2 separate regions of the Homo sapiens genome follow, and region 2 is linked to region 1. Evidence: fine-mapped expression QTL. Tissue or cell type: whole blood. Region 1 holds a variant in brackets; the other region holds the start of a gene. All regions are shown on one strand. Distances are from middle to middle.

The links. PIP is the estimated chance that this variant, and not a neighbour inherited with it, causes the effect.
Region 2: it holds the start of SAMHD1, and the variant in region 1 is fine-mapped to the expression of SAMHD1 in whole blood (INTERVAL, PIP above 0.99).

The regions. Positions count from the first base shown.
Region 1 is chr20:37,914,471-37,917,226 of GRCh38, forward strand. All of the region lies in intron 1 of VSTM2L (V-set and transmembrane domain containing 2 like), which reads left to right. It overlaps LOC124904896 (a long non-coding RNA gene), which reads right to left. Exons shown (of 3, transcript XR_007067576.1): 1 at 1,153-2,756. Among named protein-coding and RNA genes, the nearest start is that of VSTM2L, 13 kb to the left of the region's middle. RefSeq lists enhancers at 1-590, 591-1,438. The variant T/G (reference allele first, on the strand shown) is at 1,375.
Region 2 is chr20:36,950,329-36,952,949 of GRCh38, forward strand. It overlaps SAMHD1 (SAM and HD domain containing deoxynucleoside triphosphate triphosphohydrolase 1), which reads right to left and starts at 1,380. Exons shown (of 16, transcript NM_015474.4): 1 at 1,108-1,380. The coding sequence starts at 1,315. RefSeq lists a silencer at 875-1,094.

The DNA.
Region 1 (2,756 bases):
TGTATTTTGTGTGTGTGTATTGTGTGTATGCGTGTGTGTTGTGTGTGTGTGTACACTGGCCTCCTTTCTAGTCCTTGCACACACCAAGTTCCTTCCAGACCTTTTCTCTCCCTGGCTGTTCCCTCTGCCCCTCGTGCTCTCTTCCCGTCTCCCGGCTCCTGGCTCCCCTGTGCTCCACGGACCCCTTAGAGAAGCCAGAAGCACATGACCTGTCAGAGCCGCATCGCACGGCCCGCAGCAGGCATCGGGCTCCCATTCAACACGCCCACCTTGCAGAGGGGAAAACTGAGGCTTAGAGAGGCGTGGTGAGCTGGGGCCCCACACCTAGTTCAAAGCAAGGGTGCAGAGCCCAACCCTATGTTCCCCCAGCCCGGCATTTTAAGGGTGTCTCTTGGGATGGGGGTGGGGTCTTGACTGACCCCTCCTTCCTCAGAGCCCCCAGGCTGGGGCCCGAGGTGGGGAAGGCGGAGAGCTGACGGCGGGGTGTCTGTTTTGCTTTGTGAGGTTTTAAAAAAATCATTTCCGGCGTTGAAGGCGGCGGCAATTAGGGCCTGCTCGCTGGGGAGCTGTTTGCCGCCTGTCGTCGGTCCGGGAAAGGGTCCCTAATGGAGGCCCGGCGGCCAGAGCGCAGGATAGTGGAAATAGTGCTCAAAACAAAGCTTCACTAATGGTCTCCCGGCAGGCAGCGGAGGAGAGGGAGGGGCGGTCGGACAGCGGCTGAGGGCCCCTGGGACAGGGCCCAGATCCACCAGCTCCTCTCTCCATGGCCCTCAGACACCCTCCAGCTAGTGCGGGAAGCCCCGGGCCCCACCCGCGCTGCTGCCTTCTTGCTCTGTGCTCTTGGCCTGTGAAATTCCCTCCCAGGCTCTGGGAACACTAAGCGCCAAGGTCCTGGGGTGGGGCCCAACCCCTTCAGCCATGAATTCTCTGGTTCTAGAATAGCCCTAGGGTTTAATAAGTCCAAGGGGCCCGGAGCCTTGAAGAAGGAGGAGCTTCTTCAAGTAGAGCCAGGCTACGTGAGGAGGTGACAGGAGAGCAGCCTGATCCTGTCCGGGAGCCCACTGTGTGCCTGCGTGATGTCACTGCAGCACCGCTCACAGCACCCATTTTACAGATGAGGAAACCGGGCTAGAAGCTCAGAGATTCACCTACCTTGAGGAGGTGCAGTTGGGTTGAAATCCAGGTCAGCCTGACTCCGGAGCCCACATATTTACTGTTGCTTCCTTGAATTTCGCAGACACGATTGGGCAGGGGTGGCAGGGGCTGGGGCTGGGGCATGTACTAGGTCCTGGGTGGGGGGTCAGGTTTGACCGAGGCCAGGTTCTGGTCAGGGTGGGGCCACCACCACCCTACCCACTGGGCACCCTCAGAGCC[T/G]CTGTTCTGGAACATCCCAAGTGCCTGCCTCCATCTGTCCCTGTCCGTTGGTCTCTGCCTCCCCTTTTGCCCCGTCCTTCATGTCCCTGGCCCTCCTGCCTCCACCCTCAGCGCCCCTTACAGCCCTCACTGTTCTTTCTCCTCAGTGGCTCTGAGGCTGCTCCTTTCTGGCGTGCTGGAGCAAATCCATCCCTGTGATTGATGCAGCCTCCTTTGCTTCCCCCACTTCTTCCCTCTTAGCCCCTCCCGGCAGCAGAGGATGGCTATGCGCCTCGGCTTTGGGATCTGACACTAAGGCTCAAATCCTGCCCCGCTCCAGCCTCTCTGAGCCTCGTTATGCATCCGTGCAATGGGCTCACCCCACTAGCTTTGCAGGATGTACTGGGGAGAATGAAAATAAATGGTATCGGTAGAGACGTCGGGACGCCTGTGTGCCTGCTCCCGGCTCCTGGCTCCCTGCCCCCGCCCCTGCCCTATCTCTGGCTCCCTGAACACTCCCGCGCTTGCCTCCCTCCCTCCCACCTGCTCTCACTCCTTGTGGCCCAGACATGTGGGAAGAGGAGGCGGGAATTCCACTGGGGAAACCTGCTCAACTCCCACAATCCTGCAAGTGCCAGAATATTTTAGTTCTCCTTAAATCTCCCTAGATTTGTAATTCTACTGCTGTCTACCTCAATATGTGCTGGTGGCCTTGGGAGGCGCCCTGCTTCCAGCTTGCCGGCTCCAGCACTTCCTGCTCAGCTATGTCGGGGTGTCTGGCAGGGAACCTGGGCAAGTCCCCACCCACTCCGTGCCTCAGTTTCCCCATCTGTAAGAAGAGGACAATGATAGTGGCCACTTCCCAGGTTGTTTTGGGGATTAGGTAGGATATTTTATTGTATTAAAGAAACACCTCTATGAAAAGTAATGAATTACTGATGTGTGCGACAATGGTAGATGAACCTCAAAAACTCTATGCTAGATGAAGGAAGCCAGTCACAAAAGACCACATATTATATGATGCAGATGATATGAAATATCCGGAGTAGGCAAATGTGAGAATGCAGATTTGAGGTTGCCAGGGGTTAGGGGAGAGTGGGGAGTGAGGAGTTTCCTTCTGGGGGGAAGACAGCATGTTGGGACTAGTTGCATCACATTGTGAATGCACTAGATGCGACTCAATTGTCCACTTTAAAGTGGTTAATTTTGGCCAGGTGCGGTGGCTCACACCTGTAATCCCAGCACTTCTGGAGGCCAAGACGGGCGGATCACGAGGTCAGGAGTTCAAGACCAGCCTGGCTAATGTAGTGAAAGCTTGTCTCTAGTAAAAATACAAAAAAATTAGTCAGGCGTGGTGGAGGCCGCCTGTAATCCCAGCTTCTTGGGAGGCTGAGGCAAGGAGA
Region 2 (2,621 bases), 960 kb before region 1:
AGAAAAAAAAAAAAGGAGAAATGCAATTTCCCATACCCATTCAAGCTATCTTTGGGTCCTGAACCACTAATGTTCCTCCTACCCCAGTTTCCAACCTAGCCAAACAGGGCCCCACCTAACAAATGCAAAAATTTACTAAATTTGCAAATCCCAACCACCAAAGAATCACCTTCCTATTGGACACCTAGAGGATATAAGGCAGGAGTCAAATCTCACACCCACCACAAAAAGTTGAGTAGAATTCACAAGGATGGATGCTTGGATACGAATCAGTAAAATATGATTAAAACTCAACCTAAACACTTCTCCAGGGGATGTGGCCAAACTGTGGCATGCTGGGGATTCAGTGGTCAACTGAACAACCCCAAGGTTCAGATTTTGGAGGGGAACCTGCTTTTAAAGAGCAAAACATGTTCCTTACCATGTTCTGCAAGTGCAGTCAACACACGCCTATCGGGCGCTGCTGGGATGCCAAGGAAGGTGATGGGAATTCAGAGATTAACCAAGCCAGTTCCTTCCCCTTCAGGAAAAGCCTCAATTCAGGGAGGAAACCGAAACCTAAAAGCCCCAGAACATCCTCTGATGTGGCAAGTGTTCAAGGAGCTGCGGTTAGCGCGGAGGGGTCCCGCGAGCCTGGATGACAGCAAGCCGCCCACCAAGGTCTGGGGAAAAATCTCCTTCTAACTAAAAAAAAGGGACCCGAGTCTCGCTTGTCCCGCGCCGGGGTGGCAAGTTAGTGAAGAAACCCACGAGAGTGAGATCCCAATCTACGACTGCCCCTCCCAGGTCCTCAATCCCGGGAGCCTGCTCCCATCCTACGAATCGCCTATCCCAGGCGACCCCATGTCTTCTTCCTCCGCCTCGGGGAGTCAGTCCCGGGAGCCCCATGCCGCAGGCCCTCCTGGGAACCCCCGCCGCAGGGCTCCCTCCCCCGCCTCGGGTCTTCCTTTCCTCGGCGCCCCCAGCGCAGGTCCGCCCTCCCGGGTGCCTCCCGCCGCAGGGCTCGCTCCTCGGCCTCGGTCCTCTCGTGGGGCCCCCTCCCTCAGGGCGCCTGGCCCGCGCCCCAGGTCGCCGCCCTTCGCCCCTCAGCCCCTCCGGAGCCGCTACCTCGGATGTTCTTCAGCAGCACCGGCTCTTCAAAGCCACCGCGCCTGAGGAAGGAGCACACCTGCTCCGGACCCCATGTCTTGTAGTCGGGATGGAGTTCCAGGCCCGGGGACCAGTCTGCCTCTGCGGAAGGGGTGTTTGAGGGGGTTCTCGGGCTGTCATCGCAACGGGGACGCTTGGAGGGCTGCTCGGAATCGGCTCGCTGCATGGCTACACCTGGCGTCCGGCACAGCAGTCAAGAACCTCGGCGCCGGACCCGCGCGCAGGCGCACTGACAGCAGGGCCCTGGCGGGGAGTCCAAGGAGTATTGGCAGCCTATTGGCCTCCTGCGCAGGCTCACTGACAGTTGAGCCCTTCGGGCAGGGCAGCCTAGCGGCTCTTGCCTTGGGCTCCCTGCGCAGGCGCAATGGCAGTCCAGTCGTCCTCAAATCAATCCCGCCAGGGCGCTGGACGTGAACGCGAAAGGGCGTGGCTAGAAGCAGAACTGAGGGCAGTGCTGGTGGAAAGGGGGAGGAAAGAGCGCGCCCGGCACCGCACCCCCAATTAGGGGCTCGTCTAGTGAATTGGGGGTATTCTCCTTCGAATGAGTACACTACCCGCCGCACCTTGGCCGGGTTTCAGATGCCCCAAACTTAAAAGAAGCCTAAAAGGCCGTCAGGCTGCCAGCACCTTCCCAGTGAAGAGGAAAACAGTCAAGGTGCTGAACTGGAAGAACCCGGAATGATTTCAAATGTGACTTGAGGGTGTCTTCATTCCACAGTATTGCTGGTCAACTAGAGGGCCCTGGGATACCTGTTGTCTGGTGTCCACACAGGAGGGGACTTCAGACTTCTTTCCAACTAGAGACAGAGCCCTCCATCCCAACTGCATTCCCAGAGGAAGGAAAGTGGCCAGTCTGATTACTTAAAATTTAACTTCTGAGGACTTTTACTGCCTGGTTGTAACAGCATGTGAAAATGGCAGGCATTTTCCCATCACTTAACCCCTCTGCGGCAGGGCTCAAACTTCCCTATAAATACTGGTCCATGCAATTGCCTGGTAAAAGGACATATCACTATTACTGTTAATAAAGCCAACACACCTTCCCAGCAACCAAGGCATAGACCTGTTTAGGGGGTCAAGGACGAATGAGGCGGAATAGCTTATCATCAAGCAGTATGAACTAGTGGTCTACTGGTGAGCCAAAATATTATTTGCAAACAGAGCTTTACTGTGTGCCAGGCACGGTTCTAAGGGCTTTACAAATATAAAATAATTTTATATTTATACATAATACTAAATGAATTAAGTACATTCATTAAATTATTTAAATATTAAATAATTTTTATAACTTCTAAGGGTTTTACAAATATTGTAAAGTTCTAAGGGCTCTACACATATTACTTCACTTAATTATCACAATTACCTTAGGATGTAGGAAAAAGTAATTTGCCGCAGGTCTTCTTTTTTTTTTTTGAGACGGAGTCTTGCTCTGTTTCCCAAGCTGGAGTGCAGTGGCGTGATCTCAGCTCACT